Regions from separate parts of the Homo sapiens genome. Here region 1 is linked to region 2. The links come from fine-mapping of genetic effects on gene expression. A gene starts in region 2. The other region holds a variant in brackets. All regions are shown on one strand. Distances are from middle to middle. Region 1 overlaps PLEKHA3 (pleckstrin homology domain containing A3). Region 2 holds the start of PLEKHA3 (pleckstrin homology domain containing A3).

The links.
Region 1: its variant is fine-mapped to the expression of PLEKHA3 in whole blood (INTERVAL, PIP 0.98).

What each region holds. Positions count from the first base shown.
Region 1 is chr2:178,495,793-178,512,020 of GRCh38, forward strand. PLEKHA3 (pleckstrin homology domain containing A3) reads left to right here. Exons shown (of 8, transcript NM_019091.4): 6 at 3,419-3,462; 7 at 5,269-5,384; 8 at 7,968-16,228. The coding sequence ends at 8,095. Among named protein-coding and RNA genes, the nearest start is that of TTN-AS1, 19 kb to the right of the region's middle. The variant C/T (reference allele first, on the strand shown) is at 7,041.
Region 2 is chr2:178,476,688-178,491,597 of GRCh38, forward strand. PLEKHA3 (pleckstrin homology domain containing A3) reads left to right here and starts at 3,770. Exons shown (of 8, transcript NM_019091.4): 1 at 3,770-4,222; 2 at 8,954-9,070; 3 at 13,972-14,127. The coding sequence starts at 4,183. FKBP7 (FKBP prolyl isomerase 7) reads right to left here and starts at 1,913. Exons shown (of 4, transcript NM_181342.3): 1 at 1,592-1,913; 2 at 375-526. The coding sequence starts at 1,812. It overlaps LOC124907911 (a long non-coding RNA gene), which reads right to left and starts at 5,011. Exons shown (of 2, transcript XR_007087320.1): 1 at 4,921-5,011; 2 at 4,658-4,795. RefSeq lists a silencer at 3,524-4,163 and an enhancer at 5,748-5,797.

The sequences.
Region 1 (16,228 bases), 20 kb after region 2:
TTTGTTTGTACTGTTTCATATTCGAGCTTCTTAGCTGATGAGCTGAGCACTTGTGCTAGTGTCCTCATTCCCTTCTCCTTGGAGGGGCTGTGCATGGCCTGCCCACAGGCTGCTTCATCCATTTTCCCCAGTGTCTAGGAAAATATTACAAAGTGCTGTGACAAAGAAAAAGTTGGGGAGCTCTATTCTGCTTGGTAAGAATTACACAATGGAATGAGATTTTAGTCACAATGGGGTACAATTACGTATATCTTTAAAGGAGTTAGAAGGAATTTGAAACATATTCCGGTGGGAACGGTATTCTCTACTAAGCATTTGGATCTGAACCCTCAGAGTAGCTGATCTTCAGTTTCTTCATGTGTAAAAATACAGTGTATATCAGAGAGTCACTGCAAACGATCTGACCTGCTTACTGTTAGGTGCTCAGTGTTAGTTTCTTACTTCCTTATTGCTCAGAACAAGTCCTCTTTTTGCCAGGGGTGGCAGATTCGTTGTCCTTTCTGAGCTAATAAATTTGCTCTAGCATGCTGTTAGAAATTTGTAGGTGAGATAAGCTTTAATGAGACTTCAAGTTTATTGCATCAAAGTGTTTTTAGGAGTCCATTTATAGGAGTAAGAATGCCACCTTGTTGCTGTTTCAGCAATTACCTGAAGATCTATTTGTTAGGAGAATAGGGTCTAACTTCTTCCTAGGTTCTCTTACCTATCCCAGCAAATTTAGTTATGAGATTTAGTAAAGATTATTGCCTAGATTTATTTAGAGAATTGTTTTCTAATCAGTATTTGATGGGCTAATAGTTTCCTCTGAGGCAAGCGTACCATGAAAATGAGTTTTATGGCCAGATTAATTTGGGAATTGCTAGGTTAACTTAAATGATATGAATTGGGTTTGATGGGACTTGTCACAGCCTTTTTACTTATTTATTTATTTATTTTTTTAGAGACAGGGTCTCACTCTGTTACCCAGGCTGGAGTGCAGTGACACCATCATAACTCACTGCAGCCTCAAACTCCCAAGTTCCAGCCTCCTGAGTAGCTGGGACTACAGGTGCACACCACGGTGCCTGGCTATGTTTTTTAATTTATTATTTGTAGAGATGGGGGGGGTCTCATTTTGTTGCCCAAGCTGGTCTCAAACTCCTGGCTTCAAGCTAAGTTTTTAAATTTATTTTTTGTAGAGATGGAGTCTCATTTTGTTGCCCAGGCTGGTCTCAAACTCCTAGCTTCAAGCAGTCCTCCTGCTTCAGCCTCCCAAAGTGTTGGGATTACAGGCATAAGCCACCATGCCCAGCCGTCACACCCTCTTTTATGCTGAAGTGTATTATGAATCTCTGAGAGGTGGAAGTGTAGTGTACAGTGTTGCTGAAATTTATTTGACAATTGAGCCCGTTATATATATACACAAATAAAATAAATATATATATAAATACTATATATGTATATATTTTCTTTTTTTGAAATGGAGTCTTGCTCTGTCGCCCAGGCTGGAGTGCAGTGGCGCAATCTCAGCTCACTGCAAGCTCCGCCTCCTGGGTTCATGCCATTCTCCTGCCTCAGCCTCCTGAGCAGATGGGACCACAGGCGCCTGCCACCATGCCCAGCTAATTTTTTGTATTTTTAGTAGAGACGGGGTTTCACCATGTTAGCCAGGATGGTCTCGATCTCCTGACCTCGTGATCTGCCCGCCTTAGTCTTCCAAAGTGTTGGGATTACAGGCGTGAGACACTGCGCCTGGCCCATTTTATGTATTTTTTAATACCATCTTACAGGACTGTGGTGTGGTGTTGAGTAAAACATAGTTTGACAATGTTGCTTTTTAGGACAATTGTAGATATGCTATAAACTGTTAATTAACAAGTATGTGTGAACAAAGAAACCAGTGTTTTGAGATGGATGTGTAGTGCTGTGTTCCTGAGGTTGATAGACAAAGGGTACACTTTTTTTTTTTAAGCTGTACTTTTTAGAGTCAAATGCAGTAAAACACCTCAGAGTTGCCTTGCTTCTGCATTGAACTTCTCAGGAAATCCCTTATGTTACAAATGCTCTGTAGTCCAGAGAAGTCAATGCGTATTTTACATATAAGAAACTAAAATAATTATTAGTTCTAGAGACAAATAGCATGGAAAGTAAGGTCAGACAATCTTCATGTTTTTTTTTTAAATAACATTGTTTATTTATTTATATGAAAAACTTACATTTATTTATATGAAAAATAAAGCTGAAAATTTGAGTATTCCAAAACAATTTAATCTGATCTTTGTAAGTGCTTTAATCTGATCTTTATAAGCACTTTATATAGTTAATCTCAATGAATTCATCTTAGAGTAAACTTGCATTTAACTTTATTTCAAGTTGTCATAAAAGTTCAGACAACCATCACTGGACCTACAGATTGAGTGATTATTATAGTGGGGATGTCCTTGGGTTAGTAAGCCTAAAGGAAGTAATTTCTGTTAAAGGAGATGTTAGTGGCCATTTGCATCTTAATGTCAATCTTATCAGATGTTCCCAGACTACAAACTGGGTGGGTCATATCTCTTAGCATTTCAACTGGTATTTCTCAGAGCAACTAGTGGCTCATGTTCCAAATATAGAAGGCATTTGCATAACATCAATGTTAGACCTGGGCTTGTTAGACTCTTGGGCTCATGTATACAAAAGCAACCACCCTAAACCTTTAGTATAATCTTTGTTTTTCTGCTACCATGTTAAACTTTGAAATAATCAGTTTTACTTGGCTGCCTCCCTTTATATTTTGATGGAGTAGTTGGATCTTCCAAATTATGTTTAGTATTTATCATATTTTTTAAATGTTCTGCTTAATTAGGTATTCTTTATTTTTTTAAATATATGTTTTGGAAATCCACTGAGACTTAGGGTTCTTCTTCTGAGTTCTTTAAAGTCTTGAATTATTAATGCTGTTTTCCATGAAAACCACACTTTAGAACATTTGTATATCAGCTACCTAAATAATTAATGATAAAGAGAAGCTTTGCTGCCAGACTCTACTACTGTCCTTTAAAAAAGAGATATTTATTAGAATATTTTGTGGCTTGCTAGATACTCCTTTTTTATCACATTTATATCTTATTTATAGTTATATACCCTGTTTTTTATATTTGTATACACACACATATATATGTATTATGTATAAAATTTGGTTTTCACTTTTGAAAAAAGAATCCAGCATGTTTTTGGTGTGTGTTGAAAAAGATTCCAATTAATGGTTATTAGGGAGAAAGCTTGATGTTGTACTAATTATGTTGCTTGAGTCTGTGAAAGATTAAATTTTTTTTTGCCAGTTATCTTTTTCTCTGAGTAAATTTATGTTTATTATGATAATAGTAAATTAGAGCTGCATGATTCTACTTGACATATGGATTATGCTAATTTTTTTTTTTTTTTCCAAAATTTCTAGATGAAGCGTTCTGTCAGCCACCCTGGTTCTTGCAGTTCAGAGAGGTAAAAGAACCTTTTCTTCTGACTAAGTTCTCTCAAATTATATCCATCTAGGGAAGTTCTTTGGGCCTTTAACAAGTGGTGTGGAATGTAAACTCTGTATGGGTTAGGTCTGGTTCAAAACCAGCATTTTATCTCTCAGTATTTATCTCCTAGTATTTAGTATAAGGGCCTGGCCTCAGTAGGTAGTCAGTAAAGAAAAAAATGAATGAATTAACCAGCAAGGTAAGCACGTTGCCAGCCATTTTACCTTTTTTAGATGTTTGAAATGCAGTCATATATTGAAGAATGACTTTTCCATCAATGATAGACTGCATATGTGACAGTGGCCTCATAAGATTATAATACCATATTTTTACTGTACTTTTTCCATGTTTAGGTATGTTTAGATACACAAATACCATTGTTACAGTCACCCACAACATTCAGTACAGTAACATGCAGTAGAAGTTTGTAGCCTAAGAACAATAGGCTATACCACATAGCCTACATGTGTAGTAGGCTATACTAGCTAGTTTTGTGTAAGCACGCTCTGTGATGTTTGCACAGTGACAGAATCACCTAGCGATGGATTTCTCAGAATGCATCCTTGTCATTAAGAGACGCATGACTGTATATCAAGTGATGGTTAGACAGAAGTACATTTTTGATGTGTTGAGACTCCACAGCTAGGGCTCATTTTACCTCAGCTGTTTATAGCATCATCTATTCATGCTGAGCTGTTGTTTCATTAAGAGAGAAAGATCTTGCTGAAGAGAGAAAACCACTTGATATTTTAAAGTACATATTCATATCAATACGTTTAAAAATTTTACCTTCTGGATAGATCTTACCAAAATGCTAAGTTGTTAAACTATTATTTTGTTAGGTAATAGTCCTTTAAGTTGCTATGGTTGTCTTATTTAGTTCTTTGGAAAGTGATTTAATTATAGTGACATTGGCATTTATTTCTCTATATTTGGACTGTTAAATGCTGTTTTGTCATGTTTTAATTTTTTCCCCTGATGATTGTATAATCTTTGATTAAACTGTCAAATACTCAGAGGAATCCAATGATGTATATATCCAACCTTGTCAGGGAATCAAGAGTCCCACCAACTGAATTTTCCAGAAAAATGGAAGCTTAATCAATTTTTGACCAACTTTTATTTTTATGAAAGAAATTTTTCTATCCTTTCTACCTCATAAAATAATAATTTTAAAATCTTATTTGTTTCCTGATGAATCAAGGTTGTCATTAAGTACAGTAAAGTTGGGCTGTTACAAAAATAGTAGCTGAGATGCTGTTAGGTGGTGGTGATTTGCTTCTCTGTTTAAATTTTTCAGACAGATTTTTAAAAGAGTTTTTCTAGGCCCCTTTTTGCCATCTTTATCTTCTCTTGCTGTTGTCAGTGAGTCTACCTCTAGCTCTATGAACTCCTTGCCCATCTCTTTCAGTCTGCTGGTTTTGATCAGATATGGATTGACTTAAAATACATGCATTCATGAAACCTATGACTTCTAGTTTTCAAACATTTGTAAACCGACTGATATGTCTGCTCTCTGGAGTCTCCCCTACAGAAGTCACTACTTCTTCATTGTACCCCTCTTCCTTTTAGTTCAGCTCAGAAGCCATATTCTCCAGGTTACCAGCTGTCTTCTAAATGGGTTCACTTGTTTTTGACTTCTGAGTAGAATGTTGCTAACACGGGACGTTGAGCATAAAAATAATTCTTTTTTCACTTAAAGAGAAGTCATTTAAAATTCCAGTTGAGTGTGTTTTTGTTTATGTAAGGCCTTACAATTTAATGCTTTTTACTTAATTTGCAGGAGTAGCCACTCTATAAAAGAACCAGTATCTACACTTCACCGACTCTCCCAGCGACGCCGAAGAACCTACTCAGATACAGATTCTTGTAGTGATATTCCTCTTGAAGACCCAGATAGTAAGTGACATAGATTCTGTCTCTTTCTTTGGCATATTCAGCAAAATTACTGTGGGGCTCTGTAATTTCTGGAAATGAAGTATACTGACTGAACATTGTACTTTGTTTCTTTGATTCCTTAATTCAGAGGTAAGCAAACAGCGCTCAATCAATGAAAGCTCATATATCCCCTTACAAACAGGTTTGTTACTAACTAAGGAGTGCTGAGGATTGCTTTGTAAATATCGTATCTCAGATATATATTTATAGAATATCATGATCTTTTACCACCACTAGGACTTAAAAAACATTTTAGAAGAAGGCATGAATTGTTAGCAGGATTCTAGGGGAAAATAAAGGCAAGTTCCAAGTTCATATAAAAGTCAGCATTGTTACTTTACTAAAATACCTAGAAATGGCTAAGGAAAAGAATTTTGTCTGGTAGTCACAGTGAATTATAGTAGCATTCATTCCTCTACCTTTTTCTTCCTTATTAAAGAGGCAGCATACTGTGATTGAATGTTTTTAGGAAAGGTTTTGTGATTTATGTTAAAATTTTTAAATTTTTCTCTTCAGAGAAGAAGCTTTGAAAGTGTGTCAGAATATCTAGTAAGATAGTAGTGACCATGATTTGCAGTGAACACAAATATAGTCTTATTATTACATCTCCATTAATAGACTTATACTCTCCAAGTCTCTACTATTTCTCAGGAAGCATGTGGGATAGAAACTATGTACAATTTCCAATTAAGGAACAGGTCGTGTTCCAATAGTTAGTTCATTTGTAAGTCAGTTGTTTGGAAAACAGATTTTATTTTTCTTGTGGAAATGACATGATAAGTGGTGGTTAGCTCTTTGGATAGCTAACCATTCTTTGGAAGAGCCCAGTGAATTCATAGTATGGCTGAAATGGGACAAAACAATGGTGTATTTCTAGCATTTGAGTGTATTGAAAACACTGATTAAGCTGGAGTTGTTTTATGTAACCAGAAAGTTAAACAGGTTTAGTTCATACATATGGCAATTTTAAAAAGGATTGCTGGTCATTTTTGGATTTTTAGGAGTTGATAGAATCTTTTTTTTTTTTTAATGCCCACTTTTTTTTTAAACTGAATTAATCATCTATTTATTAATATATGGCACTATTCTATGCTCATTAACATTTTGAATTTAAATTGAGATGTGGGTGGAGAAATGAAGGAAAGAAACCGGGAAGGGGAAGGGAGAAAGAAACTTTCTTGGGCCAATCAAGCAAGACCTGGAAGAGAAGAGGAGGAGAGGAGGAGGGTTAAAGAGGTTGAGTATGTGAAAAAAGTTATCTGAGGCAGGTAAGATAGACTCTGATTCTCTTTATTCTTTATGCCTTTTACACATGACTCTTAATCCAGAGTTCATGAAGGAGTTCTGTATGCTACCTTGTAGTTTTAAGTGCGACATCTTTTTTTTTTTTTAAGGGGATCATTTGTGATTACTAAAATAATTTTTTTAAAGCCATCCATTTTTCTTTAGAATTCTTTTCTTCTAGTTACTCTAGTCCTGAATATTTGAAAACAATTTTCAAAAGATCTAGGTGTACATGCTCTATTATATTTAGCATCCCCCAGTTTAACTGTTATGGACTGTAACAAAACTAGTCTCACACACACACACACGCACGCACACACACACACGCGCATA[C/T]ATATAGTTCACTTCTCTAGAACATCTTTAAATTAGCAAGTATAGACTAGGTCAGAAATTTTATCCTTAGATTTTTTCCTGTTTATACTAGTTTAGTGTTTCAATTAGCTGACAAAGCAAAGATTGAATTAGTGCTCTTTCCAGAAAGTATATATTTTGCAATTGGCAGTCTTAGTTGAAAGTTGTTACTCAAAAATATTCTTCTTGTGAGATGCAACTGCTTCTATTTTCTTTAACAAGCTTTTTCAAAAAGTATGAAAGTAATAAATGATGATGGTAAACTCAAACTATATATATAAAGGTACAACTGCCTTAGAACAGGACTATGCCAGTGTAGTCAGCTGTGTTAACATGGAGTTGCAGTGATAGTTCTGTGAGCTGCATTACAAATGGAGAAATGGGATCTTTCAGTATGAGGTACCTTGTCAGCTTTGCTCAGAAAGTCTTAGAATGAAAAGAGGAATACCTGAATTTAGTCCTCGTTCTGTTACCAATTGTGTGATCTTGGGTAAGGCATGTATCCTTTTATGGGTCTTGGTTTCTTTGCCTAGGAACAAGGAGGATATTAACAGCATTAAAATAGGCTGAAAAAGCAATAGTTAATTAATAAAGATTAAATTCAATTCAGCAAATATTTATTGACTACCTATTATGTGCCAACCATGATTCTAGCAGTGAACAAAACAAAAATCTCTACTTCAGGCAATTTCATCATTTATCTTATGAATTCTGATGTTTCTCCTTGTGGCTGTTGATACTCTAGTCTAAAAGTTAAGTTTTCCTGCATGAAACAAACAAGGAAATACAAAATTAGCCAGAAGCTAAAGGAATTTCATGTCCCTGAACAGGAAATTTAAAATGTTCTTTCACAGAGGACTGGAGTTAATATTGACAGGATGTTTAACGTTTTTATCAATGTCTTCATAGGACCTGTTCACTGTTCAAAAAATACACTTAATGGAGATTTGGCATCAGCAACCATTCCTGAAGAAAGCAGACTTATGGCCAAAAAACAATCTGAATCAGAAGATACTCTTCCATCCTTCTCTTCCTGAAGAAACTGAAGTGTCCAACTTCCTCTAAGTATTGCTATGCAAAAGCTGCTGTAATTAAACTATTGTTATAGGGAGTAGTTTTTTCCCTTAGGACTCTGCACTTTATAGAATGTTGTAAAACAGACAAACAAGAAAACAAACCACATACTTTTGAAGTGTATTTTATCTTTATATAGTTTGTTTGCAAGAGTATTTTCCTAATAACTTCACAGTATGAATGTGCATCTTTTTTTTTTGAACAAATGATGGTGTAACATTTTGACATCCATAAGGACAAATGTAGATATTTTTCTTAAAAACTCTGAGGGGACTGACAGCATGGTCAGGGTGTATTGTAGCTTATAAACATGAAATCTTATAAGGTTTCAGTTTGACAGAAGTGTGATATATGTAACTTGTGCCATGGACCAAATGGTCACTTTACCACAGCTAAAAATGAGTTACGATAGCAGCTTGATGGTGATTGTATTGTATTCCTTTAATCAAAAAGGAAACACAATATTCTAAGTATCTTTAGCCCAAATACCATGACATATTGAGCATCTTTAAATAACCAGACTGTATTGTCCTTCATATGTGAAGTTGACACTACTGATTTGTCAATACCAAATTTTGGGTTAAAGTGTTTAATTTTTATGTATTTATTTTCTTGTTGCCTCAAAAGATGATTGCATTCTAACTTTTGTGACCTACCAAATTTAAGATGTGTATACGTTGTTCTTTACGTTGTTCTAGAAAAGAGATTTTAATGCTGTAGTGACTTTGCTCACTTACACTAGAGAAATAAACAACTTTCAATGGAAGAGAATTTTAGTGCTTTTTTTTTCCTAAAATAGATATTAAGCTGCTGTTGTAAAGTATTGTTTGCAGCTCTTTCCAATATCTAGAGACATTTTTATTTATGAATATTTATACAAAAAGGAATTCTGTCAAGATGACTGCTCTATATCACTTGAGAATGGCATTATTTAATTAAAGAACAAATAGCATTTTTTGGTAGTGCCTGTCCATACCTATTGTCATTGTTTGCCTTGTAATCTGTTTTTTTGAATTCATTTTGGGCTGATAGTTTTGTTTAAGGTTTTGGATAAGGAGCACTTTAAAACAAACTGGTGTGTTGTTTTTAAGTTAATCATATGTTTAATAAATGCGTGGTTTTTGCATTCAAACACATCATATAATACATTGTATTTTTTACATTCATTGATATTCTGTCTAATCTTTATTAGGCACTAATATAATTCTAATGGATTTGAGTTTGTTTGTATATTTAGGCCTGCTGGTGAAGACACAAATGAAGCATAATTTTTGTTGCCTGTGAGCTTAGAATGGTGTGACCTATTTCATTTTATTTCAATTTATCTTGTAAGTTTATGTGGGATATTTTAAAATAATTAATATTTGGTATTTGTTTAAAAAACTGTAATTATAGGCCTTCCATCTTAAGTTTAAGATGGACATAAACAGTCTATACATTAATATGTGTTTGGGTAAACTGTATGCTACTTGAAGTGTTTGTAATTTTAAATAACACACAGGTCATCAGACTACTCTATATTCAGTGGAGTCTTTGCCTGCTCATAAGTTGTACTTCATATGTCTAATTTGAAAAAAAAAGTTTGATAATGTAGTAAGTTATGACGTTGAGCAGGTAATCAGGTTTTTCTTGTTTTTTTTTTTTTTTTAAATTTTGTAGTAAGAACTTGCACAGTATTAAGACCATGAAGGTCAGGGTGCTATTGATTGGGAGTTTTTTCTGGTAGTGAGTTTTTTTGCAGTAATAGGTTTATAAGGAAAACACCGTAACAAGCTTTTGAACTTATAGAAAATAATCACATCCATTTTCTATTGCTTTACCCAAATAGATGGGTTCGTGAAGAGTTTTCTGTGAATATTTTAAAAATACAATGCAATTATTTCTGGTTTGTATCATTTTTTCCCCCTTAAAACAGGTCCTTGAACAGGTTTGCGGTATCCCTAAGTATGTCTTTTGTTATGACTTGGAGCCACTTTTTGTTGTTATTGTTAGGAACCAAACACATCTGTGAAATCATTTTTTTTGTGGGAGTATAAATATATCTTGAATTATATCCAGGTTTTGATCAGTGAATTAGTAGCATGAAGAAACCTATAAAGCTTAAGGGAACCTTGCATTTTGAGGAGTCCTTTATTTTCAAGTGTGCCTGACTTTTTTGAATTTTAAGAAAAAGATGAACCATATAACAATTCTGTAAGAATTTTAGCTTGTCAAGTTGTTCTATACTTTATAGAAAAATTATTGGTTATTATTAGTTATTAGTAGTCCCTTTTTTTTGCTTTGTCTAGGTCATGGGGTTATTGAGAAACATGAAAAGTTATTGAGAAATTTGGAGGTTCTCTTGGCAGCCTATCAGTGATCTTCTAAGCAAAAGCAGTGCTTGTTTTTCATTTCAAGTGCTTGCTCACTATTCTTTGGGAATCGCAGGCCTCCATGACTAAAGGGATTTTGATACAATTCTTTTATAAATGAGCTGAATTTGAATTTTCTTACATCATATGGGATTATTGCATGATCTTCAGTCAGGAAAAATCCAGAAATGGATGCTATTGCTTAAACTTAAATTCCAAGGCAGAAGATAGAGTATCTTCATTTCCACAGATGCCCTAGAACCTTTGACCTTGAATTGTAGTTTTTCAGTATGTATTATCACATTTAGAAATGTAAAAATCACAAGATCTCAGGAAATGCGCCCTTGTGATATGTTAATACCAGATTGCTGTTTACACTAATTCCATATACATGATAATACCACTAATTTGGACTCTGCTAGTTCTTTTATTTAATAAGGCACCTCTAGGTCTGTACTTTGAGCCTTGATCTGGGTACTTGGTACAGAGGGAGTGTCCTGGCCTGAAAGAAAGCCAGATTAGGCTGCAGGAGTTCCTTTGAGGAGGTCTGTCTTTTAATAACCCTGGCGGGTAAATGAATGGTAGGTAGCTGGTAGGTAGGCCTTCTTGTTCATGTCTTTCTGTCTCCCCAATCCACTCTTTGAATTCATGTTGAATTCTTAACTTGAAATTCTGTTGTTTTTTTTTTAATTTTAGCTTTCTTTTTATTAAACTAGTTAATGTACATAGTTTGAAAAAATCAAATAGAACTAAAAGGTTTATAGTGAAAAAGTGTAGTTCCCTCTTCCCCAGTTTAGCATTCCAAAGACAAACACTTGGAACTCTTAGTGGTTTGTGTTAGTATTTACCTTCCTGTTTGAAAATGTTATACTACTTTTTGTTGACTTATCAATTTCAGAAACAGTTTCTCGAATACCTTTTATGGTAGACAGGATTTACTTTACTTAAACTCTCCACCTCCCACATTTTTCTTCCCCCACCCCTCCCAAAATAGATTTATATTCACACAACTTTTAGTTAGAACAAACTTTTTGTGAAATAGATAGACATAAATGTAGTTCACTGATGTACCACATGGTTAACTATCATTATTTCCTTTTTACTAGAATGTTATTTTTTCTGGGGTTGGTATTGCCTGATTTTCAAATTTGCTTAGTTTTTAATGTACCTGTCACAATGACTATCCAAAGGCTTAAATGCTGAAAAACATCAGATAATCGTATCAATTCTCTTAAAAAAGTTTTTAAAAATATTTTGTCATCCTTTAGGGACATTTCTTCCACAGTCCTTCATCTTCTGCCATTTGTACTGTTGCCCTCCAGGCCTGTTCTATGGTTCAGCAGTCATTCTGAAACTCCCTTTAGTTTTTAGTCTCACATTAGGTTTTTTTTTTTTTTTTTTTTTTTTTTTTTTTTTTTTGGCAAAGCTCCTCCACCAGTAACTTCCTAAGAAAAGGTGCATAGAAAGTAAAGATTTTAAGGCTTTACAGGTCTGAAAATGTCTCTACTCTTGATTGGTAGTTTGGAGTCTGGAAAATAACATGCCTTCAGAATTTTAAGGGCAACATTTCATTGTCTTAAGGCATTTAGTTTTTCTGTGAGAATTCTGATACCGTTCCTTTACCTGGGATCTGTTTTTACACTCTGTAAGCTTTTAGGAACTTCTCATTACTTCTGATGTTTCATAATAATATGTGGGTCTTTATTCATTCATCTTGATGGCTACTTGACTTGGTGGAATCTTTCAATTTAGAGATTTGTCTGCTTCAGTTCTGGGTGTGTGTGTGTGTGTGTGTGTGTGTGTGTGTGTGTGTGATCTTTTTGACAGTTTTCTCTCTTCCATTTTCTTTGTTCTATCTTTCTAGAATTTCTGTTATTTGAATGTTGGACCTCCCAGAGTTGGACCGCCTCTAAATTTAAAAAGCTTTTTCTCTCTAGTTGTTCCTTAAGTTATATTATCTTTGTTCTTTTTGTTATCCTCCAGCTCTTCTGTTGAATTTTCTTTATATATATATTTTAATTTCTAAGAGGTCTTTTTTTTCTGTTTCATTTCATAAAAACCTATTTTTATTTTATAGATTAACTGTTTCCCCATATCTCCCTGAGGATAAAATTAAGATTTTTTTCTTACATCTTTCCTGTTTCTTGAATGGTTCTCCCCCTCCCCCACCATGTTTCTGCTTTCTATTTATTTGTTTTGGGCTCTTTCATTCTGAAGCCTTTCTTAGAAATCATCTATTCATATTAGTCATGTATTAAAAAGCTAATGTCATAGGTCTTTATATGTGGGCAGGGTTTATAAGTTGTCTAAAGGGCCATCAGGTAGAGTTGGCCTTTTCTGTTGAGGTCCCCTAAATTTCAGTGGAGGTCTTCTCTTTGGGGCCAGTTTCTCTAGAAAACTGGGTCCTGATAGTAGGGTAAGAAAAGACAGCTGAGGACCCCAAGATTTGTATGATGACTTTTACTTAATCCCTCTATCTTCATCCTCTCTCATGCCCATCCGGCCCCACCCCCCAAATCCTCCTCTGGCTGCTGACCCTCAGGTTCAGTTTTTCCTGTCAGTGGAGGTTGAGGGTGGGGCGTAGGCTGGCTGTGGAGAGTAGGGGAGAGGACCTGGGTTCCAGTTGCTCTTTATACAGACTTCTAGTCCTGATTTCAGCCCTATACCTCACTCTCATCTTCTACAATACCTAGTGCTTCCAAGTCCTGAACTTAGTAGAGGTTTGGTGGGGTGTGTTTTTGGGCTTCTCCCTTTTGGGTACTTAGGCTTTAACTTCCTCCACTCTGCTAGGTTAGGTATTGCACTTCCTCCTGGTTTTTATCTGTATAAACTTTGTTAAAATCTCATGGCTTTGTCGTCTGTGCTTTTTTGTGGATTAATACTATTTATATTCCTTTAATATCTTTTGGTGGTTTGGAGGTAGAGGAAATAAATTCATGTGGTTGGTTTGTATGTTTCACTGAAAGTCTAGATTTAAATTCTAATAGTGTATAAAAAATAAAAATTCTTTAGTATTAATTTGTAATTCATTCTAGTGATTTTTAATTCATATGGTTTTACTGTACTACCTACCTCATAGGGTTGTGAGGATTAGAAGAATCAATTCATAAAAAGCAGTTAGAAAAGTGCTGGGCACGTAGTGTGTTGAATAAGTGTTAGTTATTAATATTGTTTACTATCATTATTATTATTACTACTATCAGTTTTTTTTTTTTTTTCTGAGACAGGGTCTCACTCTTTCACCCAGTCTTGAGTATAGTGGAGTGATCTCAGCTCACTGCAGTCTCGACCTCCCAGGCTCAAATGATCCTTTTACCTCAGCCTCCCGAATAACTAGGACTACAGGCATGCACCACTACTCCTGGCTAATTTTTGTATTTTTTTGTAGCAGCAGGGTTTTGCCATGCTGTTCAGACTGATCTCAAACTCCTGGGCTCAAGGGATCTGCCTGCCTTGACTTTCCAAAATTCTCGGATTACAGGCATGAGCCACACTGCACTCTCCTATCTCTCTCAATTCAGTAACCTGTTTATTCTTGAGTGAAAATGTTTCACCATAGGAAGAATTACTAATATATGGGAAAATCTAGTGTTTGATAATGTTGACCCTACATTTTTTTTGGACAGTCTCTGTCGCCCAGGCCGGAGTGCAGTGGCGCGATCTTGGCTCACTGCAACTTCCACTTCCTGGGTTCAAGCAATTCTCTTGTCTCAGCCTCCTAGGCTACAGGCTAGGACTACAGGTGCTCGCCACCATGCCCAGCTAATTTTTGTATTTTTAATAGAGATGGGGTTTCATCATATTAGTCAGGCTGGTCTTGAACTCCTGACCTCAGGTCATCTACCTGCCTTGGCCTCCCAAAGTGTCGGGATTACAGATGTGAGCCACCGTGCCCAGCCGACCCTGCATTTAACTAGACTTCATATGAAATGTTCAGGTGTTAGGTGTTATCTTTCTAAGAAACATTCAAGCCTTAAGAAATCCAATCAGTTATAGTTACTTTAAAAGTTTTAAAAAGAGTATAACAATTTTGATGTGCTTTTAAGCTTTATTGGTATTATATTTTGTTTTTATCATATAAATATGAAGTATAGGAGATAAGATAATGCAGATGATGTTTGTTATGCCTTACCTACCGCCAGTAGATGTAATACTCTTAATACATGGAGTACAGAAATAGTAGATTCCCTTCATTCCCAGTGCAACAGTGTTGGGAGGTGGGGCCTACCAGGAGGTGTTTAGGTCATGTGGGTACCACCCTCATGAATAGATTAATGCCGCCGTGTAAAGGGCTTGTGGGCGTGGGTGAACACTCTCCTGCTCTTCTGCCAAATGTCTCTCCCTTCCAAAGGACGTAGTGCTCTACATAGTGTTGGAAGCGAGAGACTGAGCCCTAACATGCCAGTGCCTTATCTTGGATTTCTCAGCCTCCAAAACTGTGAAAAAATAAATTTTCATTCTTTATGGTAAATTCCCATCACTGTATCCATAACCTCTTGTAAATAGTTGTACACCTTTCAGAAAATGTTGTGGACTTACATAAGCAAAATGCCTGCATTTATTTCATAGGTAAAATTTTAATCTATTTTCTAATCAAAGTGTTTTGGGGAACATTTAATTTAAATACTATGTTCAATTTTTTTAATGGTCTGCTTCAGATTTTTTTTATAAGTTAATGTTTTAAAACAAAATAATTGTGTTCTAGGTAGAAGCTACTCTGAGTTTAGGTTTTTAAATCTCTTTCAGATATTTTAAGTATCTTTTTTGTGTCTGGATTCAGAGAGGTATGATAATGAGATTCTCTTCTAGAGGGGAAGTGGGAGTAGGTAACCATACTACTCTTTCTACGGCTACAGAGCCGCATACTCGAAGGAGGGAGATTTTTATTTGTAAGGACATTTGTATTATCTTTCATTAAAGTAGAGTCCCATGGGCGTGGCAAATGGCTGTAAATAAAGTAAAAGTGGCTAAAGAAAACAGTGCCTGCTATTAGCTTGATGCTGGCATTTTCTTCTTTCCCTGGATGTGACTGTTATTGTCTTTATTGGGTCCCCTTATTATCTGCTTTGATATCCATCTCTGGAACTTTGATCTCTAATTTTTTTTTTTTTTTTTTGAGACAGAGTCTCACTCTGTAGCCCAAGTTAGAGTGCAGTGACACGATCTTGGCTCACTGCAACCTCCACCTCCGGGGCTCAAGCAATTCTCGTGACTCAACATCCCAAATAGCTGGGACTGTAGGCACGCACCACCATGCCCAGCTGATGTTTTGTATTTTTACAAAAATTTTTCACCATGTTGGCCAGGGTGGTCTCAAACTCCTAAGCTCAGGAGATCCGCCTGCCTCAGCCTTTGAAAGTGCTGGGATTACAGGCGGGAGCCACCGTGCCCGACCTGACCTCTCCATCTTTGGCGTCCTTATGCTGCCTCTTCTCCAAATACATGTTGGCCAGGGTGGTCTCAAACTCCTAAGCTCAGGAGATCCGCCTGCCTCAGCCTCTGAAAGTGCTGGGATTACAGGCGGGAGCCACCGTGCCTGACCTGACCTCTCCATCTTTGGCGTCCTTATGCTGCCTCTTCTCCAAATACAGTAACTAATCTAGTATATTTTCATAGGATAGAATTTGCCCTTTCTGTCCCATAATATGTTCCTCTTCCCCAAAAAGTTTTTTGTTGGTCTCTTTGGTAATAAAACATTTAGAGCATTTACTGTGGGCCAGGTGCTTTACCTCATGTTAGCCTTAT
Region 2 (14,910 bases):
TTTAAGGCTGAATAATATTCCATTTCATTTTTTTTTTTTTTTTTTTTGTAGAGCAGGGTCTTGCTGTTGCTCAGGCTGGTCCTGGCCTCAAGTGATTCTACCACCTTGGCCTCCCAAAGTGTTGGGATTACAGGCATGAGCCACTGTGCCTGGCTTCCATATATGCATGTATTCATTTTGTTTATCCATTTCTCTATGTATGGACATGTGGCTTGCTTCCATCTCTTGTCTATTGTACATGGCTGCTATGAGCATGGCTGTACAAATATTTCTTTGAGACTGTGCTTTCAATTCTTTCAGACCTATATACCCAGAAATCTATTAATCATTTTTTAAATATAACTAAAACAAGAAATTAAAATTAAACATCTTACCATAGCCTTCCTTTCCGTATGCAAATGAAGGGGGTATAACTACTTTTCGCTTTTCTCCAGGGCACATATCTGTCATAGCAATGTCTAGGCCTTTTATGACTTGCCCAACACCAAGAACAAACCATTTGGGGTGGCCTTCATTTTGTGTCCGGCTATAACAAAAAGCAATACTTAAGTAAACTGATTTCAAGAAATCAAACTTGAAAATACAGCTGGGCATTTAAAATTGGAGTCCTCTCTAACCATCATTCCCATATAATCACTCTTTCTAAAACCCTTAATGGGGTGTTTGACTCAAACTTCCCTATAATCACCAGAAAGAAGTATGATTTGCCCAAAGTTAATCATTAACAGCCATCTCATTTTTTAAAATTGTTATCTTTACAAAAACTATTCAACAGTTAACTTTTTAATGGGTCTCCAGCCCCTAACTAGGTGCATGGCTTGTACAAAGAACTCATTTAACTCCCTGGGTTTGTTGTAAAAAAATGATAGGGCAGTTTTAGCCTCAAAAAGTCATTTTAATAGTAATTTAAAATGGTATATTTTCTTATTAAATTCTAATGATATAATTTATTAAATTCTTATTAAATTATAAAATTGTATAAATTCTTATTAAATTTCTCTATTTTATTCTAAATGGATGGAACTGTTTTTCCCAGTCCTATCTTTACAGGGTAAAGAAAAGATTCTCCCTCTGAGTAATAAGCCATCAATTAAATCAGAGTAGGCACCAGGTGGAATGAGGGAGCAGGGCCCACCAGAAGTCACCAGGGAAGTAACTGTTTTTCTTGATAGAAAGTGGCCACAACCTATAAAAATCGTGCTTCTGAAGGCCAGAATTAAATCTCTTTATTCCATGTATTCCTCCGTAAAGACTCAATACTTCTGGCAAGGGAAAAATGTGAACATCCTTATAGGCAGAACCTTGATTTAATTCTGGAGGTCCCAAGGGTAATGGTGGTGGTTGATGTGTGTGTGGATGTATCGTATTTTTGATAATTTATTGCCACAACATTTTCAATACTTTAAATAAAAATATTCAGTTTATTAGAGAAACACTGCCATATAATGTGATTTTTTTTAATGAATAAAGGGCTCAACTTTTACCGTTAAAAAATAAAACCCCAACCAACCAACCAATGAGGCTTCCGCTTGGTGGAGGCAGGCAAGATTTTGTGCAACTGGACGCACGGGCAGCTCGCAGCATTTCCTACCTGCAGTAGAATTTCGAGCCGTCTTTAGCCAGGTAGCCGTCATAATGGGCATTTAGTAGGTCTCCCTTCTTGCTTGTCTTAGAGCAGTTTTCTGGACGATGCAAAACTTCTATTTTCACTTCTTCGGTGCTCTCCTCTTTCTTTTGTCTCTGAGCAGTAAAAAGGCCCCACAGATAAAAGAAAACAATGAATCTGAATAAGAAATGCATGGTTTTTGGCATCGGCTCCAGCAGAACACTGCTCTCCCTCCCGCGTGTCACTCGCGCCCCGTGGATGTCCCGCGGCCGAGTTCCGACGCGTGGCAGGCGTTGTCCTGCGTCACAAAGGGCCGGGGCGGGGCCATAGATGCGGCCCCGCCCTCTCATGGCCCCAACCCCTCCGCCTCCCGCAGCGGGCTCAGCGCGGTTAACGCTGTTTCTAGGCCCTCGGGCTGGCTGTCCTCAGTCTTTAAGATCGCAACGCACACTCGCTCCGCTTCTTCTCGCTAAACCCGCGTATTTTACAGCAGGTTTCCTCAGGGTTCGGTGACAACATTCGCATTTTCTAAAATGAAACTGGCATAAGACGAAATAAACAGCCTGGGATGTCGTAGAGTCAGGGAATATGGTTGTCATTTCTGGAAGCAAAAGGCTTCTAAGACCCCTAGGGAACGAGCAGATAGATACTGGGGGGAGGGAGAGGCATGCTGGAAAAGGAGCGTAAAAAATAGGCTGGCGGTGGCTTTCTGGGTGCTTCGGAGGTGTCCTTGAAGCGCATTCTCAGGTCGGAATCTTGCATTCAGAGGTTCCAGGCTGAGTCGCACAACCTGAAGGCCAGCCCGATGCAACGAAACTGCGGTACCGCAACTCCTCTGCCTGGCTGCAGGCGTTTCCGAGAGCCGACCTCCACAATTCAGCATCCTCCGCTGGCTTGCATTTCTTTTCCCCGCCACTCGGGGCCGCCCTTGATTCGAGGGCCTCTGGTAGTGCGGGGAATGTTCTTTTGACTTTTTTGTACCATCCCATGGGATACGTAATTGTCCACATCAGTCAAGAAAACTTGAGTATTGGGCATGTTGTCCCAATCTCACAGCTAATACGCAGCAGGGATTTGGTCAAATCTGTGTGACAACACCACTTCACCACCAATTTTAGTATGAAAACCTTTAAAATACACAGAAAGTTGAATTCTACAGTAAACTCTCCTACACCCACCATCTGGATCCTGTCATTGAACTATATTATATTTATTACATATCCATCCATCACTCTATCCATCCATCAATTCGCCTTGTTTCCAAGTGAATACCCAAAGACTACCCAAACCAGAAAACCAGCAAAGGCCTTCTGCATTCGCCTGGATTAAGTTCTGGGAGTAGAGGTGCTATTCTACCTCGGTGATGCGAAGAAAAGCCGCAGCACTGAGCCTGATTGATGTGCTTTGCTTAAAGTTTGCAAAATTCCATAAACCTGAAAATTACTGTCGATTATGCAAGATGACAATTGCGTCCAAGCAGGAGTTTCAAAAATCATAAAAGCTAGGGGGAAGTCCCCATTTCTAGACTAAAATTCCGAAGTCGAGTTCCATGTTTTATATTCTAAATAAAATTGTGGCTATCCAAGGTTATCGGCGTGATGACAGTTCCTTGGGGGCCCTCGCCATTCCTTGTCAGAGGACCCCGTCTGCTGCACATTGCCTTCCTAGGAGATAATTTCAGACCCCTTGAATATGAGGAAAATACGAAGCAAACAGAAATAGGAAGGCTTTTATGTATTTTTGAAGAAAAAACAGGATTTTATGTAAAATAAAAACAGGATTTCATGAAGAAACAGGATATTATGTATTTCTGAAGAAAACCCAGGAAAACCCGAGAGAACTAAGTGCCCGCGGGATGAGTGTGCGGGCAGCTCCTCCTTAGGTAGGCACCGGGGCTGCGCGCGCAGCGGAGCTCGAAGGTCTTGTCCCCCGGGGGCGGTCAGCCTGGGCCTTGGCGGCCAAGGGGAAACTTGGGAGCCTCGGGACTGTTGGCCACCGGCCCGTGGGAGGAGTAAAGGCGGCCCTGGCTGGCAGGCCGAGGGTGTGACGCGCCGGCCCGCCCTCCTCGCGCAGCCTCCGGCTAGGCGGCGAGGCCGCAGGCCGCGCCCGCTCCTTCAGCCCCGCCGCCGGGGAGGGGTTTCCCGGGACGATCCGGCCCCTTTCATCCAGGAAGTGAAATCGACGTCGGGGTCAATGAAAACAAACGGGGAGCCCAGGGGGAAGGAAGGCAGGCGAGGAAGAGGCAGCGCCGGGGCGCCGGAGGGAGCAGCCGGGCTGCGGAAGCGCGAGCAGGAGGCCGGTCGCGGGCGCATTTTTGCCGTTGTCGCGGCCGCCGCCGCCGAGGCTTACCCGGGAATGTCTGGGCCCGCGCCTCGCGGCCCCCAAGCTCCACGCTGCGCCCGCTGTCCCGGCCTCTAAAGGCCGCCACGTCCCTGCGGCGCGCGCAGGCAGAAAGCGGCTTCGTGCCGGCGGAGGGGGCCCGGGCGGGCCGGGAGGGGCTGCCCCAGGCCCTGCGCCTACCCCATCACCGCGGCCGGCGCCGGGCCGGGAGGATGCGCGGTGTGGGGCTCTGAAGCATGGAGGGGGTGTTGTACAAGTGGACCAACTATCTCACAGGTATGGGGGCTCGTGTGATGAGGGAAGAGGGGAGAGGCGGGGGGCTGCTGAGAAGGCGGGTCGGGGCTCCTCTTCCTCCGTCTGGCCTCCGCGGACCCTCAGAGCGAATTCGCTCTACTCGATTCCAGGGCTTGTTGAGTCCTTCTGGCCTCTTCAGGGGAGGGTTTGAGGCTGCGCACCTTCTAGAGGGTGGGAAGTGCACCTGCCACTTCTTTGCTAGTGTAATAATACTAATCCTTGCCTCCTGTAGCCTCAGGAACAATTCTCAGTCACCCTACATGTGTTGTTGCGATCTCCGTCCTTATTCACACTTAGTATTCATACTTTAAGAGCATTTTGTTAATAACTGAGTTGTCGGAGTATTGGACTGGAATGGACCCTTTAATTGTTTCAACTACAAGATTTAATTTTAATTCTTTTTTGTATTTCTTTTAATTTCCTTAACATTTTATTTAAAACGTTGTCTTGTTGAGGTTGTTCAAGCTTAGCGAGCATGATTTTGGAAGCTGTCCCCAGATAATATTCTCTTAGGGATTGTCATTGAAGTATCCTTACGTTGGGGAATTCTGTTAACTGAGAAATAGTGGAAGAAAGTGTCAATACACAGAAGGGGAACAGGCAAGTCACTTTCACCTGTGAAGTGGGTTGGAAGGAAAAACTTTGAAGAAATGAGAGACCAGCAGGAAAGGGCCCCTTACCATGACATTGGCAGCCTGTAGGCTTATTTAAAAGCTCCTTAAATTTGAGTTGTAGTCCAATCTCTGCCATCAACCAACAATGAAGGCAAGTCAGTTATTCTTTCAGGACCTCAGTCTGATAAGGCCAGGGTGATTAGTTATTTTGCCCCGGGATGCCTTCCAACTCCAGAATTCCATGACCTCACTAAGTGAGAAGATGGTTTTAACATAAATTTGAACAGTAAACAGATTTTTTGGGGGGGGGGGGTCTAGCATAATAGGCAAATCATGACTTGCTGCCCACTTCTTCGCTCTGCCAAAAGTATCACATCCCTCAGTAATTGTGTGGTACTCTCGACTTGTGTCCACCTGATCTTGTGCAAAATGTGCAGGTAAACTTTTTAAGGCATAAGCACTGAGCTACAGTTATACCTGCTTTTTGATTTATTAGAATGCTAAAGCCAGATTTGTAGCAGCAAATGCTTTTAACATTTATGATACACAGATGTTTTATTTTGTTCAAACTAAAAACTCAATTTATTTCTATAAGTGACATGTTTTAACGGGAAACATTTAAAAGTTAGATAAATATTTTTTATTGGGCATTTTCATTTTGGCCATTGTGAGAGCAGTTATACTGTTTGGTTGAGGTATAGTGTTAACTGTTAAAGACAGTAGAGTGCTTCATGCTTGTAATCCCAGCACTTTGGGAGGCGGAGGTGGGAGGATTGCTTGCTCAAGACCAACCTGGGCCACATAGGGAGACGTGGTCTCTACTAAAAAAACAAAAACAAAAACAAAAAACAGCTAGGTGTGGTAGTGCACACCTGTAGTCCCAGTTACTGAGGAGGCGGAGGCGAAAGGATTGCTTTAGCTAGAGAAATGGAGGCTGCAGTGAGCTAGGATCAGTGAGCTATGATTGTACCCACACACTTCAGCCTGGCTAACAGAGCGAGATCCTGTCTCAAAAAAAAAAAAAAAAAAAGACATTAGCTTGTATGCTTTGAGATGCAAATGCTCATCTCATTGCAAGTGTTCCTAAGCATGGTGTTGTGGAACCATTGGGCCATTACTGAGATGAGTCATAATTTAAGAGTTGAGATGAAACCTGGGCTTGGTGGCGATTTCCTTATCTCCTATGGTACTAAATAACCAGGGGTTGAGCTTTTAATCACATGTGATTTAGATTTTAGTCTTTGCAGGGCATTTAGTCAACTTCTAGTATGCATTGTAGAAGCTGGTTGAAAAGAAATCTTTTGTTTGGAAGAATTTATTTTTAAAAGTTAAATTTGGGTAGATGGTGTGCTGATTATTAATTTTAGTTCATCTTAGGTCATAAGAATGAGCAGCTGTTCATACTAAGTGATCTTTAAGTGTAATGATAGTGTTGTTCAGGCACGGTGGCTCATGCCTGTAATCTCAGCACATTGGGAGGCTGAGATAGGCAGATAGCTTGAGGTCAGGAGTTTGAGACCAACCTGGCCAACATGGTGAAACCCTGTCCCTACAAAAATTACAAAAAATTAGCCAGGCATGATGGCATGCACCTGTAGTCCTAGCTACTTGGGAGGTTGAGGCATGAGAATTATTTGAGCCTGGGAGGCAGAGGTTACAGTGAGCCCACATTGTACCACTGCACTCAAACCTTGGCGACAGAGCGAGACTCTATCTCAAAAAAAAAAAGTGTTATTTGAGAATCCTTTGTAGAGAGTAAGAATTTCAGTAACATTTTGTAGTTTGAGATAAAAAGAATTAAAAAAAAAAAAGAATTTTAAAAAGGGAATACCTGTGAATCTTTTTCACAGATATTACCCTCTGTTATATAAGTGTGTGAACCAATTAGAAATTGTTTTATTAAATATTTCTTCAAAAAGTGTGTAGAGATAATTAACAGGCTTGATTATATTAATGTGTTCAACCACTCACCTTTCACGTTGCTGCAAATTCTAAATGAATCATTTTGCCCAATATTTGTTTTAAAGAGATATTGAATTGCAGTACTGCAGGCTTGCAAAATCATAATTTGTCCTATAGGCACACTAGACCTGGGTGGAGGAATGTATTTTCACCACCCCCTGCTTATAATTTGTTTGGCAAGGTAAATTAGTGTTTGGAAAGATAATGTTTTTATCATTTCCATGCATGATCAATACAATATACTCTCAAAGATATATTGTATGTCTATACTCTCATGGTTAATAGGAAATATCTGCAGGGTGTGATGGCCCACATCTGTAATCCTAGCACTTTGGGAGGCCAAGATGGCAGGATTACTTGAGTCCAGGAATTTGAGACCAGCCTGGGCAACATGATGAGACTTCGTCTCTATAAAAAATTAAAAAATTAGCCAGGCATGGTGGCACTTCTGTAGTCCTAACTACTTGGGAGGCTGAGGTGGGAGCACCTTTTGAGCCTAGGAGGTTGAGGCTGTGGTGAGCCATGTTCATGCCACTGCACTTCAGCCTGGGCAGCAGAGTGAGATCCTGTCTCAAAAAACCAAACAAAACAACAGCAACAATCCCTGAAATATCTCACTTTTGGGGTATTCATTCATTCATTTATTTATTCAGTCACTTGAGAAATAGATTTTTTTGGTACCTCTTATGTGCCAGGCACCATTCTAGTTGCTGGGAATGCAGTGATGAACAAGATAAAGTCCATGTACCAAAATAACTTACCTTCTAATTTGTTTAGGTCTCACTAGGGAATACTCTGTTGTTTCATAAAAAGGAATCTTCCAGGAACCTGAAAGTTGCTGGTTTTTAGTTGCTTTAGATATCTCTCTTTCTGAACTGTATTACTGCATTCCCTGCCTTCCTAAACAGGGTTACAAAGTAAAATTTAATCTTTTTGATGACTCAGTGTTGTCATTTCAAAAGTGTTACAGATAAATCCTTTTGGGGAATTAAGTCCTGGATCTGTATTAAAGTGTAAGGATGACTGACCCATCTCCCCTCTCGGCACTATCTGACCCTGGAAAGATCAAATTGATCATGTGGCAGGCTATGGCAAAAGTGACCGGGATACGAACATCCATGGTTTAAAATGTACATTTTAGCCATGAATATTTGTGCTGAATTGTTATTTAATAGTCATGGAAAGAACAAGGACAGTCACACTGCTCCCAGCATGGTCACCATGTTAATAGTCAGTGAACTGTTGTAAATTAGTAGCATGCTTGATAAGACTCCGGGGAACACCAAGTTTGGCTTCAAAGAGGAGTGGGAATTGGGTGCCAAGGAAAGTCATCATCCTTGTCGTCAGCTTTGGCATGGAGCCAAGTCTGTGATAGATGTGAGCTCTAGTCACTGAATAAATATCAATCGAACAATTGCAGTTTCTAGGATTTCAACCCTAGCTGTGCAACTGCAGACAAGGGAAGAGGGGGTCATATGGGGAATCTGTGTTCTCACCATAGGGTATGTAGCTTCTATTTAAGAGACTGGAATTCATTTAGCACTCATTGTGTTTAAGGGAGTTTGCTTAGAAATATGTATTTTATAAGAGGCACATTGCAGAATTAGAGGGCTAGGTGGCACCTGAGAGGTCATCTTGTTCAACCTACACATTTTAGGGACTGGGAATTTTAGAGATTTATTGAAATGAAAAGATTTGTCCCCAGGGTATGATTATCCATTAAAGAATGATACTATAGGTAAGGCTAGAACCCTTGTCTTCTGTGGCTTTTCCCATAATATCGTAACCCCAACTCTGTTCCTTTTTAGGAAAAGAGGGCAGTTATGCTATACCCGGTTTAGGGCTATTACTGAGGATGGGCCTTATGGGTTGTTAATGAGAACACTGTGAGCTAGAATTAGAAGTATTACTCCCCGTGTTTTTGCTGCTCTGGAGCTTGCTCCAGAAACCTCTCCCAATAAAGTGGAGACTGATGCAAAAACATTTTTGGTAAGGCTTGGTGATTGAAAATTTCATTATCGGAATGTTATTTGAGAGCCAAGAAATAATGTGGATGGCAGGTTTTGAAATCACAGTTTTCTATGTGGTGAAAGTAATGTGTTTCCAATTGACCTTTTGTTATTTATGGTCTTTTTAGGCTGGCAGCCTCGTTGGTTTGTTTTAGATAATGGAATCTTATCCTACTATGATTCACAAGATGATGTTTGCAAAGGGAGCAAAGGAAGCATAAAGATGGCAGTTTGTGAAATTAAAGGTAAGTGAATATACAGAATTAGAGGAATTGGAGGTTAGATAGTCAAGGGTTCTTCAGCATACTCCAGACGAGGAAAAAAAGCATTTCTAACCACGTAGGGATCATCTAATACCATTTATATCCTTAGCAGTCAGGAGTGGCATTTCATCACAGTTAACACAATTAAACACAGTTTTTGATAATTCTCCCTCTACAAATGTATTTTTGAATGGAAATAACTTTTGCTAGTCTTCCAATTTGGATTTGACAAACAATTTCTTGTGGATACTACTTTAGTGTCCACCTTCAGTCTATAAGCATTCTATTTCATTATTGTTGTAATTAATAGAAAGATATTGTAAAAGTTGGAGGCTGAACTCTAAAGATGATGGGGCCAGCTCTGTAGGGTTTTGATAAGGTATGAAGTTGGAGTCATAAACTCTGGTTCTTTGCTGAATTTGGAGGTAAGTTCCTCTGGGTGATAGAGATGGTTTCCTTTTCTTCCAAAAGGGGAGAAATAAAGCAATAGGTCCTGCTGTAATTTTCGTGAAGGAAGATTTTATGGACCATTGATTCATTTGTGTGTGTGGTTGGAGTGTGTGGGGTGGAGGCGAAATCAGATAAAATGGCAGTGAAAAGGACTGAATTCTTCAAAGAGAGTGAAGGAAAAACTAGAGCACCAGGGGAGTGACTGTTAAACTCCTTCCTGGTCGTTTTCATTTCTCCACTCTAGCTTGAATACTTGTCCTTCATGAAGTGTGTTTCCTTTGACGTGGTGAGCTCTGGGTCATAGCTATCAAACAGTCTTCCTGAAAGGTAGCGATTAATCTGACTTTAATTGCCATACATAAGTGTTGTCTTTTAATGTTTTATAAATGGAATAATTCAGTATTTTCTTTTGTGTCTGGCTTCTTTTACTCAACATCATGTTTGTAAAATTTATCTATATTGTTCTGTGTAACAGTAGTTCAGTCATTCTCATTGTACAGTATTCCATTGTGTGAATATCTCACAATTTTGGTATCCATTCTAGTACTGAAGGATTTTTGGGTTATTTCCGTTTTGGGACTACAGTGACTAAAGCTGCCATAAACATTCTTACACATTTATTGAACATATGTGTGCATTTCTGTTTAGTGTATCTCTAGAAGTGGAGTGGAATGCTAAGGCACTGAATATTCATACTTTCAGCTTTAATAGATGTTAAAGAAAAAAGTATTCTTGACACGTTGAAATGGTATGGCAAACTTTATTTAGGACTATTGTGATAGATTTAGGGACTATTGCATTGGAGGAGAGAAATTGGGCTCAACTCCAAGTACAAGGAAAAGTGGGAATTTATAGCCAAGGAGCAGGGTTAGGGGGAGACAGTGTCAGTGGAGGGAAAGTTACTAAAAGGTAAGTGGGGGGATTCTGGCTAAACTGACCTAACAGGATTCTTGCTGAAGGCAGGCTGAGGCCAGGGTGATCAGACATTGCTGGGAAATGGTAGGGAATGAAGAATGTGGTCAGATATCAAGGGCGGGTGATGAAATATGGTGTTAGGGGATTCTGGCTAAACTGACTTAGTAGGATTCTTGCTAAAACTGGATTCTACAAGGATGGAGAAGGAAGCCTAGGTGAGTACAGGATTCAAATGAGCCTGACTAAAATTTGGTCAAGAAGAGAATCTTTTTCTTTTTTTCTTTTTTTTCTTTTCTTTTCTTTTTTTGTTTTTTTTGAGACAGGTTCTCACTCTGTTGCTCAGGCTGGAATGCAGTGGTGTGATCATGGCTCACTGCAGCCTCCACCTCCTGGGTTCAGGTGATCCTCCTACCTCAGCCTCCTGAGTAGCTGGGACCAGAGGCACATGTCACTATGCCCAGCTAATTTTTATGTTTTTTGTAGAGATGGGATTTCACCGTGTTGCAAAAACCAGGCTGGTCTTGAACTCCTGAGCTTAAGCAATCTGCCCGCTTTGGCCTCCCAAAGTGTTGGAATTACTGGTGTTAGCCACTGTGCCTGGCCAATAATCTTTTTCACAGATAATGCCAGATGTTTTCCAAAGTGATTATATAAATTTTTTCTGCAATCGATCAGAGTATTAGGGTTCCAGTTGTTCTGCATCTTTGCCAAAACTTGGTATTATCCATTTAAAAAATTCGGAATATTTCTGGTGTTTGTAGTGGTATCTCATGGTGGTTTTTTACTTGCATTTCTTCAATAACTAATGATGTTGAATACTTTTTTAGATGTTAGCCATTTGAATGTCCTCTTGTCGGGAGTGTTAGCTCATGTCTGTAATCCCAGCAGTTTGGGAGGCCAAGGCAGGCAGATCGCTTGTGCTCAGGAGTTCGAGACCAGCCTGGGCAACAAAATGAGACTCCTGTCTCCACAAAAAGGAAAAAAAAAAAGGGTTGAATGTTGTCTTCTTTTGAAGTCCTCTTTCAAGTCTTTGGCCCATTTTCTAACTTTGGCTATCTTTCATGTTGATATGTAGGAGTTCTTTGTATAGTCTGGTTGAGTCTTTGTGTTGCAGATGTTTTCTTCCACTGTGTAGTTTATGTTTTCATTTTGTTCATGATACCTTTTGAGGAACAGAAGTTCTTCATTTCAGTGAAATCCAATTTGTTAATTTCTTTTATTGGATCCTTTTATGACCCACTGAAGACATCTTCTGTGTTACTTTCTTGAATGTTTATTGTTTTACCTTTTATATTTAGGTCTATAGTAGGTCTGTACTTGACTTAATAGCAACCTTTCCCCCATGGGGATACCTTTGTCACAAAGCAAGTGACCATGTATATGTGAGTCTTTTTCTAGACTGTCTATTCTGTTCTGTGGCCCTGTTTTTGTTGTTGTTGTTGTTGTTGTTAATCCTTGTGCAGATATTACATTGTGTTAATTTCTTTAGCTTTATTCTCTTTGTATCTGATAGCCAAAGTCTCCTAACTTTAGTTCTTTTTCAGTACTGTCTTGGCTATTGTAAGCCCTTTGCATTTCCTTACAGATTTTAGAACTTGCTTATAAATTTCCACAGCTATCTGCTGGAATGTTTGGAATTGTGTTGAATCTACAGATCAATTTGAGGAGAATTATATTCTTGATGATATTGAGTCTTCTGTTCCATTAACTCTGTTTAATTAGATATTTAATTTCTCTCAGTAATGTTTTGTAGTTTTGTGTTTAGAGGTCTTGTCCATCTTTTCTGATGTTTTGGAAGCATCATTTTTAAGTTTGTTGCCTTTTCAGGTGACAACTTTGGAGGGGACCACCCTTGATTGGATGCATAAATTCTGGTATGTTTAAAAATGAGTCATCTTATTTTAGTTTCATCTTGTAGCAACATCATTAGAAATTAGAGCATTGCTTTCTTTTAAAGTAGGTATTGGTGCTTTCACTAGTATTGGCAAGTAGCAAGGAAGAGTTACTCTTATAGCTTTAGGAGTTCAGTAGTTTTACCCTAGCCTAGAAATCTTTTGCATTCATAATTGATTGTTGCATGGTTGTATGTTTCAGTGTCTGCAACTAAGAATGACCCATATAAGTAGAATAATAAGATAGCAACATTTCTGTGGCACTTACTTGCCATAATACACTAAACATCTGGTCAATATTTATAGCAATTAATTATTTAAGTTGGGGCTTCTGCCAGATTTTGCTGGGACCCTCATAATTTGGCTCCTCCCAGCTTGTCCATTCATGAATATGAATTTGTTTTCTTTTCTTTTCCTTCTTTTTTTTTTTTTTTTTTTTTTTTGAGACAGGGTCTTGCTCTGTTGCCCAGTCTGGAGTGCAGTGGTATGATTGTAGCTCACTGCAGCCTGTACTGGGCTCCAGCGATCCTCTTGCCTCAGCCTTCCGCCTCCCAAGTTGCTGGGTCTACAGGTGCTGGGAGTACATGCTTGCACCACTATACTGGCTAAACGAGTATGAATATTACTTTGCATTACAATGGAAGCCTCTATTTATGCTTGTTTCCTAATATTCTCAGTACATTCTGTGTTTATTTTCTCATTTAAGCTTCTTCTCATTCATTTTCTTAACCAAATCCCGCTTTCATCAAACCCTTCTTCTTGAAGCCTTTTTAAATTACTTTCTCTCATAATTACACAAGAAATCTCTGCACCAAAGAGTTAAACATATGTGTATTCTGATTGTTTTTGGTGTGTCAGTTTGTTTCTTGGTTAAATTGTCAACTGTATAGAAGCAAAGACACCTTTTTTCTTCCCCTCTATCTTCTCTTCTACTAGCACTGCTCTGAGCTGAGTAAATATTTGTTGATGAATGACAGCTTAACACAAATTTTGTTTTACAACAAAGACTTGGGATTGGCTCATCATAATTCCTGATTAGCTCTCTTTTCTCAGAGCATCAAAGGAGGTGTGTGTGTGCAGGAGAAGAGGTAGAAAGAGGGGAAGAGATGAATGTCTTCAAAATATACATGCCTTCCATGTGTTATGCTATGATCCATAATTAAGGGCATATCATAGAGTTACTTTTCTGACAGAAGGTGGCTGTAGTTGTCATTTATTACATTCCTTCTATGTGTCAGGCACTATATATGAAAACAAAGACTTTGTTTTCAAGGAAATCAGTAAAAAATATGTGATAGTGTAACATTCATTGCAGTTGTATTTAATAGGATAAGTGGCCCCAAGGTGGGGGAGGGCTGTCACTTCTCAGTAGTTAGTATGTCCCTGTTTTCTTTTTCATACTCTGTCATCGCTTTGGCACCATTGTTACCCCGGGTCTATATGAGAATGTTGATTTGGGGAGTGCCACTGGGTGGCCCCTCAGGGAGCAGCACTGCCTGCATCATGAATGATAGTTCAATGTTTTTGGTATATGAAGCATCTGATACTGTGTGATTAGATGATTATTTGATTACCCTTAAATTACTTAAGTCTATAACTGTATTTCCCCTTTGTTTATCATCATAGTTCATTCAGCAGACAACACAAGAATGGAATTAATCATTCCTGGAGAGCAGCATTTCTACATGAAGGCAGTGAATGCAGCTGAAAGACAGAGGTGGCTGGTCGCTCTGGGGAGCTCCAAAGCATGTTTGACTGATACAAGGACTAAAAAAGAAAAAGGTAACTATAAACTTTTCCCTTGTGGTGAGAGTACTTTCTTAAATATAAATATAAATGTAACTAAATTAGCCTGTCCACTTTTAGTATCTATCCCAAGGAAATAATTAGAAATGTAGATTTACGTATATCTTTATCATAGTAAACATTTTGTAAAAGCTATAAATTTAGGGGAATGGCTCAATAAACTCTTTCTTTCTTTTTTTTTTTTTTTTTTGAGATGGAGTCTCACTCTGTTGCCCAGGCTGGAGTGCAATGGCGCGATCTCGGCTTACTGCAACCTCTGCCTCCTGGGTTCAAGCGATTCTCCAGCCTCAGCTTCCCGAGTAGCTGGGATTACAGGTGCCTGCTACCATGCCTGGCTAATTTTTGTATTTTTAGTAGAGACGGGGTTTCACCATGCTGGCCAAGCTGGTCTCGAATTCCCGACCTCAGGTAATCCGCTCGCCTCGGCCTCCCAAAGTGCTGGGATTACAGGCATGAGCCACTGCGCCCAGCCTAAACTCGTGCTTTCACTGGCTGATATATAGACAGTAAGATGTTGAAAAGGAATTTCAATGTGAGAAAATGCCCAGGGTTAAATGATCATTGAAAAAAGCAGGATTCAGAATTATGTGTATTGTTAGTATTCATTGGCTGGCTTAGGAAAGGTATGTAAGAATTGGTCAGATTGTTACCTTTGGAAGTGGAATTTGTGGGAAGGAGACTCAGTTGTCACTGTATATACCCTTTGGTATCTTTTGACTTTACCATGTACGCATATTGCCAATTCAAAAAGATTTTTAG